Linked DNA regions of Homo sapiens: all the other regions are reported to be linked to region 1. The links are microRNA targets in miRTarBase. Many come from high-throughput screens and were not tested one by one. Region 1 holds a microRNA gene; each other region holds the end of a gene's coding sequence.
The links. The annotated mature microRNA hsa-miR-5047 reads UUGCAGCUGCGGUUGUAAGGU and lies in region 1 at 1,576-1,596, opposite strand. An mRNA with a match to its seed (bases 2 to 7 or 8) in the 3' UTR can be bound and repressed. Matches are read on the target gene's strand: a 7mer-m8 pairs with bases 2 to 8, a 7mer-A1 pairs with bases 2 to 7 and ends in A, and an 8mer does both.

Region 1 (4,139 bases):
CATTGCCTTCATTTATTGTATTTCAAATCACTGTACATTTACTTTTGTGAAAACACTGCCTGCATTTTCTAGTACAAAAAAAACCTAAAAATTGTTTCAGGAATGTAGAGAAATATCCAACTTAAATAGCGAAAAAGTGCACCATAATTACTGCTGCACTGCAGTCATTTCTGCAATTCCCATGTTTCTTAAATAACTATCTTGTCAGATAACACACAATATAAAGAGCAATTATGAAAAACAGACATTTACATATACTTCTAAAGTCTTATTGGGAATATCCTGTTGGCATTGGATAACCAATCATAGGTGCAGCTGCAGTAGCAGGATATGCATATGCCTGTTGGTTCATACCATTGTGCATATTTGGAACATTACTTCCGTATTGCTGAGTGCTATCATAACCATTCTGGTAAGTCCCTGTTGGATTACCAGTCCTAAAACTGGTCTGTATACCAGCAGACACAAAATTACTTCCAAAGCTCCCATTGGTGTAATTTGCAGCACTGTAAACACCATTCTGAGTTTTTGCCCCAAAATCTCTTTTAAGCAGGCTAGAGTAACCTCTGTCATAATTTTCCCTGTCTCTAAAGGTATTAAATCCACCCCTTTTGCCCGCAGAGTATCTGTCCCGACGGTCATCCTTCATGCCTCCTCTACCCCTGGAACGACCTGTCAAGAAAACAATTGCAAATTGATCAATTATGTCTATGACACAAATCATTGTGGACAGAAAGAAACAGATCTATTCATGGTAGGCGTGAAATGTTTTTACAATTTTTCAGCTTAAGTTTTCACATTCAAGGTTTTACTCACCCTCCAATACCATTTAAATGGATTTGTAGACAACGATGTGACTCGTAACTACCAACATTTCCTATCAGTCATCCTTACCTGAACCTCTGTCTTCGACCAACTGAAGCAACTTGGGATTAATTGCTTGATTAGCTTCACGAAGCACAGAGATAAGGTCGCTCACTTGCTTTATGTTATTAGGTGTAAAGAAAGTGTATGCTGTGCCTGTTTTGGTACTGCGAGCAGTTCTTCCAATTCGATGAATATAATCCTCTGAGGAGTTAGGGTAGTCATAATTGATGACAAATTTCACATCTTCCACATCTGTAAGGTGTTGCAGTGTGGCAAAATAGCAATGTACGGAGTTTTGCACACCACAACAGCCAGACCAAAAATAAAAAGTTAGACAATTGTATTCCCAAGAAGGTACGGGCTGCAAAAAATACAGTTAAAATGGTTATCCATTTCCTGTAGGAATACCATTGAGGTTGAAAAAAGAAAAAAAAGCACATGTCATCTGTATAATTCATCACCCACCCAGTGACAGACCCTGTCAAAAGGAATGTGTGTTCCCTAAGCACATTCCCAAATCAGCAAGTTCCCTTACAGATCATCAAGTGACATCTGAATGCTTCTGCGCAGTAGGGCCACTTAAAGTTTCACAGCAACCTCTTCATGTGCTCATTTTGAGGACCTTGAAACAAAAAAATGTACAAGGTCCTTTGCATTACACATTCATCAGAAGTTCAAAATTCTGGCCACACTGCTTGTCTTGCCAAGACCTTACAACCGCAGCTGCAAGAAAACATACCTGTCCCCCAAAAGTTGTTTTTATGCACTGTGTCTCGTCTAGGCAAGCGCTTCCAAGAAGCCAGGATTCACTTGAGAATGTGTCTCTCTCTGGCAGGTCTCGACATGACGACTACTGTGTAGGTGAGGGAGGAACTTTCAAAGCACTTTCTTTTCCCACTTACTATGTGTGAGAAGTTGCTCCTGCTCTAGATCTCATGTGCCAGTACTCACCAATTTGTAAAAGGCTTAGTACCTTTTAAAGCTGCTCTCTCCATTTCAAACTTGAACAAAAATTTCATTGAACATTGAAGTTTGGAACTACTTCTTCGACATTTCAGCAAACTCACTGAAACTCAAAGACCCACAGATCACAGTGAACAGTTTGAAACAAGGCTGTACCATGGCAGTCATGCAAAGCATGGGACAGAAGAAATACCACGGCAGTGAACTGTGAGGATAACTTCCATTTTTTCCCTCGGAGAGAACAGTTTACGGGGCAGAGGTGATATGTTCTGCCTTTTGAAGATTACTGGCACACGTTCAGCTTTTTCACCTCTCTAATCGACTGGAAGCAGCCAGCCGATCACTAGTCCTCCATCCCCCTCGAGTCCTCCGATTGTCATGCCTAGGCCTTGCCACAAAGACAGCACCTTTATGTGAAAAAAAACTTAGAAAAAATGCAGGTTAAAGAAAGCAATAAACTTTCTTTAAAAAAGTTAAATGGAGATCTTCTGGGAAACCAAGCCATGAATGCGAGTTTGTACTAACCTAGCCCTCTGGAGGCCACATCTGTAGCAATCAGAATAGGAGCTTTTCCATGTTTGAATTCTACAAAGGAAGGCATATACATGATCAATTATCTGAGCAGAATTCTAGCTAGGTTAAGTAAGGGGGAAAAATACTTCATTTGAAATATTTACCATTTAGAACCCAGTCACGCTCTTGTTGACTCTTGTCACCATGGATACCCATGGCAGGCCACCTAAGTTAAAAGACAAGTTGTGTTATTAAACTCACATTGAAAACCTCAGACTCCAGTGCTTGACCACTTTTGGTCACAGATCTCTTTAATTTCGCCAGAAATGAAAAAGTTAAATTCACTATCAGATATGAAAAAAATCCACTGCTCGTGATCCAAGTTTGCCCTTTCCTAAGCTGTTTTAATCAATCTGCTTCAATGGAGGAGCTCACACATACCCATCTCTCCTCATTTTTCTGGTAAGCTCATCACATCTTCTTTTGGTTTCCACAAAAACAATGGTTTTATTCTCCTTCTCACTCATGATCTCTTCCATTAGACGAATAAGTCTAATAATAGGAGAGAGAAAGGAAAAATCCTGAGTTTTAAAAGACCATTGCTAGGGCCACACATTTATGGTCAGCAAAACATTAAGTTCAATTTACATGGCTGGAAGTCAAAGAGGAAACGCCTGCTAATCCACTTATCGAGCAGTTCGACCCTTGGTCCTTAAGTCAACCAGGGGACACATGAATTCCTTCTATAGGAAAGCTATAAATGGTGACAGCCATTATTTGAAGGATTCAAGAAATTTTCAGGATTAGTAGGCTAACTAAATGAAATCACACCAACTGAAATAACCTAAAACAACTCACCAAACAATGATCCCTCAATTTTACAGCAAAGTTGTTAGGAAGCAAATATAACAGAGTTAATAAAACTTACTTTTCATCCTTTTCTACGTCATGACACACATCCACAATCTGAAGAATGTTGTGGTTTGCACTCAGTTCAAGTGCACCAATGTTTATATGAATATAGTCTTTCAGGAAATCTTCAGCAAGCTGTCTTACTTCTTTTGGCCAAGTCGCACTCCACATTAGAGTTTGCCTATCAGGCTAATGGATTTTGGGGGGAAAAATTAGTATCAGACTCTTAAGAGTGAAAACACAATTCAGTTTGATCACATATTTCAAAGGACACTTACTCTTATTTGATCCACAATCTTCCTTATTTGGGGTTCAAAGCCCATATCAAGCATTCTATCTGCTTCATCAAGGACAAGGTAGGTTGTTCTTCTCAGATTGGTTTTTCCACACTCTAAAAAGTCAATCAGTCTTCCAGGTGTTGCAATACAGATTTCCACACCTTTAATTAAATACGTAAGTGTAACTACAATACCTAGGATATTTAGCACCAATGACAAATAAAACCCTTTTCATTACATACCTCTCTCCAAATCACGTATTTGTGGTCCCTTAGGAGCACCACCGTAGATACAAGTAGACTTCAAGCGACATGCTCTACAATATTCAGCAGCTACTTGCTGCACCTGTTGGGCCAGTTCCCGAGTTGGTGCCAGCACCAAACACTAAGGAAAGAGAAACAGCTTTCAGCACAAACCTGGATACTAGTTTTAAACTGCTAACTTATTATACTAGCAGATCCTTTCTTCATGTGTTGTCCAATACCCAAAACAGCTCCAGCTGAATAGGGTGAGCTAACCTCTATATAAAACCACCACAAATGATTACATCTTTAGCTATGTAGTCTAAAATCTACACATTATGCTTCTAATAAAAAGTTAAAAATA
Region 2 (4,000 bases), not on the chromosome of region 1:
CTGTGGTGGGGAGAAGGGAAAGGCAGGAGAAATGAAGTACATGCAACAAAAGCCCCCACTGCCTGAGTCTCCTACCTGATCCCACAGCCACCACTGCCACTCTCTGATACTCTTGTCCCTTCTTCTGCAACCTCTGCCTTTCTAGAATCGAGGCATCTACATGTTCCGAATAAACAATGAACATGTGATTGATGCTACGTTGACCGGCGGCCCTGCCAGGTGAGAGATGACGAGGAAGGAGGGATTTAGTGGTCCCTGAGAGTGGCACTCTGGGGGATAGACGAACAAGGAATCAAAATTGTCCCAAGTTAGTTGCCTGACATCCCTGACTCTGTCCCACTGCCCAGGTACATTAACCATTCCTGTGCCCCTAACTGTGTGGCCGAAGTCGTGACATTTGACAAAGAGGACAAAATCATCATCATCTCCAGCCGGCGAATCCCCAAAGGAGAGGAGGTGAGAGGAAGTATCCTGACTGAGTGACAAAGCAGCTCCTCCTCCTTTCACCCCTTCTCTGCCATTCCCTAAATGTGGATTCCTAGGCTGGGCACCTCAGATCATATCTTCTCTGGCCTCCCCTCTTCCTGTGGGGGACTAGCATTGATTCTGCCCTCTTCTCTTTTCAGCTAACCTATGACTATCAGTTTGATTTTGAGGACGATCAGCACAAGATCCCCTGCCACTGTGGAGCCTGGAATTGTCGGAAATGGATGAACTAAGAAGCTTTGAGGCTACCAGGCAGGGGAGTCCCCCTACCCACAACCTCTTCCCTGAAAGGGATGAGGGGGAAGAGAGGTAGCAGCCAGAGCCAGGACCCAGGGTTGGGGCTGCCGGCTGACCCGGAGCCCCTGGAGCAGGAGGCTGGGGCAGAGGGCCCTAGGCCAAGCCCACCCTGGGCACCAGGGACAATCCTCTTCCCCACCACCGGCCCTCAGGCTGGCATCTCTGCCCCCAGCTCCAGGAGGGGCCAGACAGAAGCAGCCATTGGGCATCTCAGGTTTGAGGGGGATATGGGCCGGGAACTACCCAGAAGCATCTGGGAGGCAGCAGGGTGGGGGAAGAGGATGTGTGGCCGGGCCTCACAGCCCTGCTGCTCCCACTGACCTCTCCGGCCCAACTCACGGCTGCAAAGAGACTTGACTAAGCTTGACAATCCCAAAGGCCGGGTCCCACACCTGGCCCTGCCTGCCGGGTCCTGCCCCCACCCTCACCCCCATCCCCCTCCCTCTTGATCTGTCTCTGTTTCCCTCTTTTCCTCTGTGTTTCTGTCTCTCTATGGGTTGTGTTTCCTTGTTTTCCACTCTGACAAATGCAACATGAACGGGAAAGAGGCGCCCAGCTGCCTAGGAGGGCAAGCTGGGCAAGCCGGGCAAGGAGACCCCGCACCCACACCTACCTCATTTAAGTGTTGGATTTTTTGCTGTTTTGAAATGTGAGACCCTCTCCAAGCCCCCTACTGCCCCAACCCTCTCCCCCACCTCACTGCCCTCTTCTGAGTGGGTGGAAGGGGGGTAGGAGGAGGAAGAAAAACAACAACAAAAAATCCATCTTTGTTTTTAATTATGGGCATGGGATGGTGGTTGAGGCAAATGATGATGAAGATTGGGGATGACTGGCCCCTAGTTGCTCTAGGACTTCCTTCTCCATCTGGACATGGGGGCAGGAGGGAGCTAAACCTAGGACCAGGATATCTCCCTCCTGTTTTCCCAACCTCATCATGAGCCTGTTTGCCCTCCAGCCCCTGGACGGGTTGGGTGGGGGGTAGGGTGAGGGCTATCCCTGAGTGGCATGCCCATACCTAGTGAGGCAGGGTGTGGCCCGGAGCTCCCACTTTCCCTCAGTCACCAAACTGCTGCTGGTCTGGTGGGAAGGGGTGGTGATGTGGGGGTGGGGGAGCTTAGTGTCAGCGCGGGGAGGGTGGGGGGTATTTATCTATTTATACATGGGATTGTACATAGTCTTGTGGGGCATGGGGGAGCCGGCTGGAGGTGAGAACCCTCCCCTCTCCCCCCACCCCCCGGGGAGAGCAAATGTAAAACTACTAATTTTTGTGCTTTATATATTCTATATAAATATATCTATTTTCTTTTTACAAAACCAGTTTATAAATGGTAGGGGGGTGTGGGGCGGACACATGGAGCTCCCCTTGTGGGGGGGCCCCCTCCATTACCCGACCTACCGCCCTTTTCCTCACCCCCCACCCCACTCCCCACCCCCTGGCTGTGACTGCTGTAAGATGGGGGTATAGAGGCTGGGCAATTCCCACCCCCTGTTGTATAGTTGGACTATGTTATAACGCACAAAAGAGAGCTGACCCCAGGGGGAGCCAGAGGGTGATGGGTTCCTTGCCTCCCTTTCCTTCCCCTTTCTGCCCAAGCTTGTGCTGCAGTTGAACCTCTTCCTGGGGGTGGGAGTAGGTAAGGGGTGGGTGAGGCCCCAAACCCCTCTCTGGTAGGGAACCGTGGGGATGAAGATGAAGCTTATATGCAGTTCTCTTCTAGGGGCTGTGGGCAAAGGGCATTTTGTAATTAATATTTTCAAGAATCAGATGTCTGGAGTGTAGGGGTGGGCTTGGTGGTGGTGGACGGGCGGGCCTGCTGGAGGGGGAGCTTGGTCGCTGTTGTGATTTTAGGTTTGTTTTTGTTTTGTTTTGAATTTGGGGGGTTGTGGATTGTTGGGGGTAGGGAGATTTTTTTTTTTTAAAGCTGCTTCCTCAACTGTTTCAAGCTGCAAATGTTTAAGAGAATAACAGCCCCCACTCCCACAGGAACCGCTGTAATTAAATCAGACAGTAGGAAGACTGGGCTGCTGCCCTCAAAGCCACAGCCCTTGGATGTTCCTTTTCCGAGAGCAGAAGGTCTAGGCTACAGGGAGGGGGAGATTGGCTCCCGTGAGTCAGGCTGTGTTTGGGGCTTGGGCCCTGGGATTGGGAAAAGGGGATGGGGCAGACTTTGTAAGCATATGCTAGGTATCCGATAGTCCTGTAGAATTTAGTGAAGAAACCTTATACAGTTTTTAATTTTTATATAAACTATAACTCAGACCCAAGCTACAAGGTTGGAATTTTGGTTGGTTTTTTTTTTAAGTACCCTGCCTGTATAATTGCATCAGAATCCCCCACCCCACCCCCCGCCCCCGTGTTTGTATTTTGGGTTGGTTTACACTCGCACATACTCAGTTTTCAGTTTTCCCCTTTACAGTCTTCTCCCCTCACCTCCAGGACCCTCCCCCTTTTTAAAAAATAAATCGCTGACAAGTGTGAATCCCGTGAAGACTTTATTTTGTGTTGTGTGTATCCTGTACAGCAAGGTTGGTCCTTCGTAACAACGGATGAAATGGTTCCCTTTTTTAAAGCGCCCTCTCTCCCTCCACCCTCAGCGCCCCTGTCCTTGGCATGTTTTGTATCAGCGATCATTCTGAACTGTACATATTTATGTTGCGAGAGGCAAAGGGCAAGTTTTGGATTTTGCTTCTTCCAAGTTTGTTTTTAAACGACAAATAAAAAAAGAACATTTTAAATACAAGCGGCTCCGTCCCATGACCCTCGCCGTCAGCCGGATCCGTGCGGTCCGCGAGGACCCGGGGGAGGGCGGTTACCGAGGCCCGCCACCGCCGGAAGGGTGGGTTCCTTGCCTTCCGCCCCAGTCTGGCGACTGCCATGACGTGGGCGGAAGTGGCGTCGCCGCACCGGATGTGGGGCGGGGCCTGCCCCAAGAGAGTTTCCTAAAGCGAGGAAACCAAGCCGGGCGCCTCTTGCAATGGAGACGGTGAGGAGTGCAGGAGGGCGGTCGGGGGCGCTGTGGAGCCTAAGACACCCCCCCAACCCTTAGGAGACCGGGAGGGCCGGGCAGGGGCTGGCGCTGGTGTCTAGCAAACAAAAAGCAGCCGGGTGTCTGCCCTATCCCGTGACCCTGTTCCTCCGCTTCTTCGTTGGGCGCATCTCCTGGAACTGGGCCGCGTCCCCGCCGCCTTTCCGTACGCGGTACCCTTAGCCCAAGCA
Region 3 (4,000 bases), not on the chromosome of region 1:
TCCAGTATCAGCAGAGTTGAAAGCAGCGTCTGATTGAGACATACGTTGAAGCTATAGTGTAAACTCTCAAAAGCAAGACATGTAAGGAAGCTTTGCTAAATCATTTTTCTCTGTCTTTCCTCTTTGGGTCCAGGTTGAAGTAAAGCCATATGTGCTGGATGATCAGATGTGTGATGAGTGCCAGGGCACACGCTGTGGTGGGAAGTTTGCCCCGTTCTTCTGTGCCAACGTCACCTGTCTGCAGTATTACTGTGAATACTGCTGGGCGAGCATACATTCCCGAGCCGGGCGGGAGTTCCACAAACCGCTGGTGAAGGAGGGAGGCGACCGCCCTCGTCACGTCCCGTTCCGCTGGAGCTGAGCCACGGGCCGACCCAGCCACAAGTACTGGAGTAGATAACAAGGAGGGAAAAGAGAGGGCACTGCCTCAGGGCTTACAGTGTTCTGGAAATCTGTGCATTCGTTCTCGATTTTTAAAGAAGAATTGGGTCTTTTTATTATTATTATTATTATTTACAGTCATATTACTGAACTCAGTGTCCAGTATAATGCAGAATTGCAGAGTGTAGAATGGTACTGATTTGCACTTTGATTCACACCTTTGTCTGCTTGGTACCTTAATTTTTTATACCTGATTTGTCACTCGTGACAGTATGTAGACTGCCATTCTCATCAGCGGCCGTCAGGCTACTGTCTGTGATTCTTTTGTTTGTTGTTGTGGTGTTGTTCTGATTGTTTTGAACTGGAGCATGCACTTATTTTCAGAAACTTAGAGAGTTGCCCCTAGGACAAGACTTACCAAAGGTAATACTCGTGAGTAGGTGGCAGATGTAGCAAAAACTTCACAACAATTCAGCAATCATTAGCTCGGGTCACTTAGAGTAAGGATAACCCTTCATGAAAATAAGCCTTTAGTTGCTCTCTATTTTGACTTGTAAGGATACCTCATAAGCTGGATCTTTTATTTTTCCTTCATGTTTGATTTTTGTTTTGCCGAGGATTTTGGTTAGATCTTTTAGTATTATGTAAATTTATGCTGCAATAGCTTTTGCTGCTATTAAAATGGTATTATTAATACCATAATACTCTATTCAGGCTAGGATATCAATTAAACACAAAAACCCAACAACACACTTTTGTGATTTTAGGGATAGAGTCAGCTGCCGAACGGAGATCAGAATAGACTTCAGAAAGCTTCGGTGGAAGGTCACTATTTCTGACTGCATGTTTACTTAATCAGGTTGCTGCATGCAATAAATTTTATATCCAATGTCTAGTATAAAACGTTCCCACAATGCACAAATTAAGAATCTATATAAGCTATAAAAATACTCATTTTTTAAAAAAAGTTTTTTTCATTCAAAGAATTGGTAATTGACCGGAGGAAGGCATGCCTCAATAAATGGAATGCTCTGAATGGGAAGAGCCCATAACAGAATGACCTATATTACAACCGATATAAAACCTAGGTGTAGGATATTCTTCAAGCAAATTTGTGGATGGTAGATGAAGTACTTTGCGGTGCTCTGTTATATATTGTGAAATTTATTTTATATAGTAAAGTGATTATGTCTAACTGTGATCAAACTTAACTGTTTAAAGCCTCTGTCAGACATTAATGAACTTGACAGTTCATAACTGATATATTATAAACTAACACATGAGCTCTTAGTTACAATCTCTTAGTGCTTGCACCATTTTACATAGCTTCAGACCTTGTCCAGAAAACCAAAGAGCTCATCTTAGCTTACAAACACTAAGAATATATACAGGATATAGAGATAAGTTGTCAGATTGACAAACTAGGCACATTTTTAAGAAAGTTGTGTAATGGTGATGCTAAAGAAATGTCTGTACAAAATAAGATGGCCTGGGCAGAGTTGGTTGTCTGAGTGAGAAACTAACTACTTAATTCCCTGGATTTATCCTGTTAAGCTTGAGTAGAATGAAGGCCTGCTAGCACTAGCGTGGTCTAGAATGAAGGCCTGCTAGCACTAGCGTGGACATTTTTCTAGCATTCACCCTTGGGCTGCAGATAGTAATATATAAACACACACAATGATTGCAAGACTATGTAAATCTTTTTTTAATCTTCTTCCTATGTTTTGGAATTCTGGGGACAATCTGACTGGATATGACACTGCAGAATAGATTTAAGTCGCTGTGTTTTCTGTGCTGTGATGTCCTTGTACTGTCTTAAGTTAGTGTTGCTTGTTTTTGTTTTGTTCTCCCATGTTTAGTTGCAATTACTGGCTCTCAAGCTATAGTTTGTTTTCAAAAAGGAAAAACAAAATAGTTTTTTACTGGATTAAAAATGCTTATTTTAGAATCCTCCCCTTTTTGAGGCTTTTTGGTAATAATTGCTTTTTTCCAGCCCAGGTGTGGTTTTGTTTGTTTTTTTCTATGTTTGTGGGTTTTTTTTCATCTGTACAAGAAATTTTGTTATGCACTACTACTTTTTGTATTCTAGACAGTTTTCAAAAGTTGGCAGATTTTTTTTTTTGTTTTTAAGGAAAAAGGCATGCTTTCTGACTGACATGATCTTTTGCAATACCTCAATTTTGAAATATAGGAAAGAAAATGATATTTTCTAAGTAAGTTTATTCAGAAAAATATATATTAATTTAATTCTGCAAGAAAATGATTTAACAGATGGGTAACTTTATTTTTTTCATGCTTATTTGTGTTTTTTGAAAATGAAGAAGTTAGAGCTTTATAACTATAATATTAAAGATCATATCTAACCTACAGAAATCTACCTAATTATGTGAAAGAAGCAAAACTTTTTGAAGAAGCACCCCTCTTTCATGTATTAAAATAACACTGAGATTTTTTTAAAAGCTGGAAGATTGTACAGCATAAAGCTAAAGTGAAGGCAAAAAACATTGTCCTGAAGAATAGGTTACAAAAAATAAACTCCATTTGGTGCTGAAAGTTGTGAATAGATGGTGGAAACTACTTTCCCTTAATTTGTATATTTCTAATCAAGTGTTGATTGTGCGCGACTGACCAGGATTGTGAAAGAGTTCTTCTGTTTGTATTTTTTTAAAGAGAACTTTTTTAGTTTATTAAATTATAACATGTTCCCTTTTGTTTTGTAAATAAATGTGCCCCCAAGTTGTTAATGTTATATTAAAAGAGAGGGTCCTTCAAAAAAATTATTTTTTAAAACACAGAGGTGTTCTGACCTGCAACTTGACTGGGAAGCCCCTGGGTAACACAGGTCCTGCTGTGGCCTTTCCTTGGTGTGACACTTGAACTAGTCGATTTTTTGAAGGCTATAACCTAACCTCGACTATTTGTTGTTATGTGCAATACTGTTTGTACTGTTTGTATAAAAAATAGAAAAAAAAAAGAAAAGAAAAAAGGCATAAATCTTTATTGCAGATTTATTTTCATTGCAAACTTTAGACATTGTGATTCACTGAAATCATTTTTCTACTGTCAAATATGTACCTTTTCTTCATGCTGGTATTTTTTCAATAGTAATGTAGCCTTTGTACTGAGACAAATTTTCATTGTTATTTTTAGAAAGATTTTTTGCTAAGAAAAAAATTAAACATATTTACATATTTTTCATTTTATTTCGTATTTTCTTTAAGGAGTGCTTTCTCAATCATTAATAGAGTTGTTTCTGGGAGGGACTTTCATATCTGGTCAATGTCATAATATTATTTTGTATTTTTATTGGAATAAATTAATTTTATGATGCTAATTCTTTAAAAGTTTATTTTTTTCATTTTCAGTTATTTTTGAAGCTAAAACCTTTGTAATATTGTTACTAAAGTGTCTAGTTTTTTGAAATGCAAAGCTTTATGTATTAACTTGCTGATGTGGTTTACAATAGTGTGACAACGATGAAAATGCTTGGTTATGTAAAGTGATTGGAAATGTAATGGATAATTGGGTAATAAAATGACAGAATGAGCAGAACATGTGAGATTTTGAGAAGCCTTTTCCTTTATCACAGTGGTTTAGTGTAAGACTAGGGATGTCACAG

Region 2: the mRNA of KMT2D is a reported target of hsa-miR-5047. Seed matches in the 3' UTR shown: 7mer-A1 at 1,124-1,130 and 8mer at 2,726-2,733.
Region 3: the mRNA of CPEB3 is a reported target of hsa-miR-5047. Seed matches in the 3' UTR shown: 7mer-A1 at 1,036-1,042.

The regions. Positions count from the first base shown.
Region 1 is chr17:64,499,655-64,503,793 of GRCh38, forward strand. MIR5047 (microRNA 5047) reads right to left here and starts at 1,659; the gene lies at 1,560-1,659. It overlaps DDX5 (DEAD-box helicase 5), which reads right to left. Exons shown (of 13, transcript NM_004396.5): 6 at 3,776-3,917; 7 at 3,534-3,694; 8 at 3,272-3,444; 9 at 2,785-2,895; 10 at 2,508-2,569; 11 at 2,356-2,415; 12 at 895-1,119; 13 at 1-672. The coding sequence ends at 269. It overlaps MIR3064 (microRNA 3064), which reads right to left and starts at 1,185; the gene lies at 1,120-1,185.
Region 2 is chr12:49,018,499-49,022,498 of GRCh38, reverse strand. It overlaps KMT2D (lysine methyltransferase 2D), which reads left to right. Exons shown (of 55, transcript NM_003482.4): 53 at 146-219; 54 at 348-456; 55 at 627-3,521. The coding sequence ends at 719. PRKAG1 (protein kinase AMP-activated non-catalytic subunit gamma 1) reads left to right here and starts at 3,723. Exons shown (of 12, transcript NM_002733.5): 1 at 3,723-3,767. The coding sequence starts at 3,759. It overlaps DDN-AS1 (DDN and PRKAG1 antisense RNA 1), which reads right to left. Exons shown (of 2, transcript NR_147179.1): 2 at 3,259-4,000. RefSeq lists an enhancer at 3,320-3,519.
Region 3 is chr10:92,048,573-92,052,572 of GRCh38, reverse strand. CPEB3 (cytoplasmic polyadenylation element binding protein 3) reads left to right here. Exons shown (of 10, transcript NM_014912.5): 10 at 134-4,000. The coding sequence ends at 361. Among named protein-coding and RNA genes, the nearest start is that of BTAF1, 130 kb to the right of the region's middle.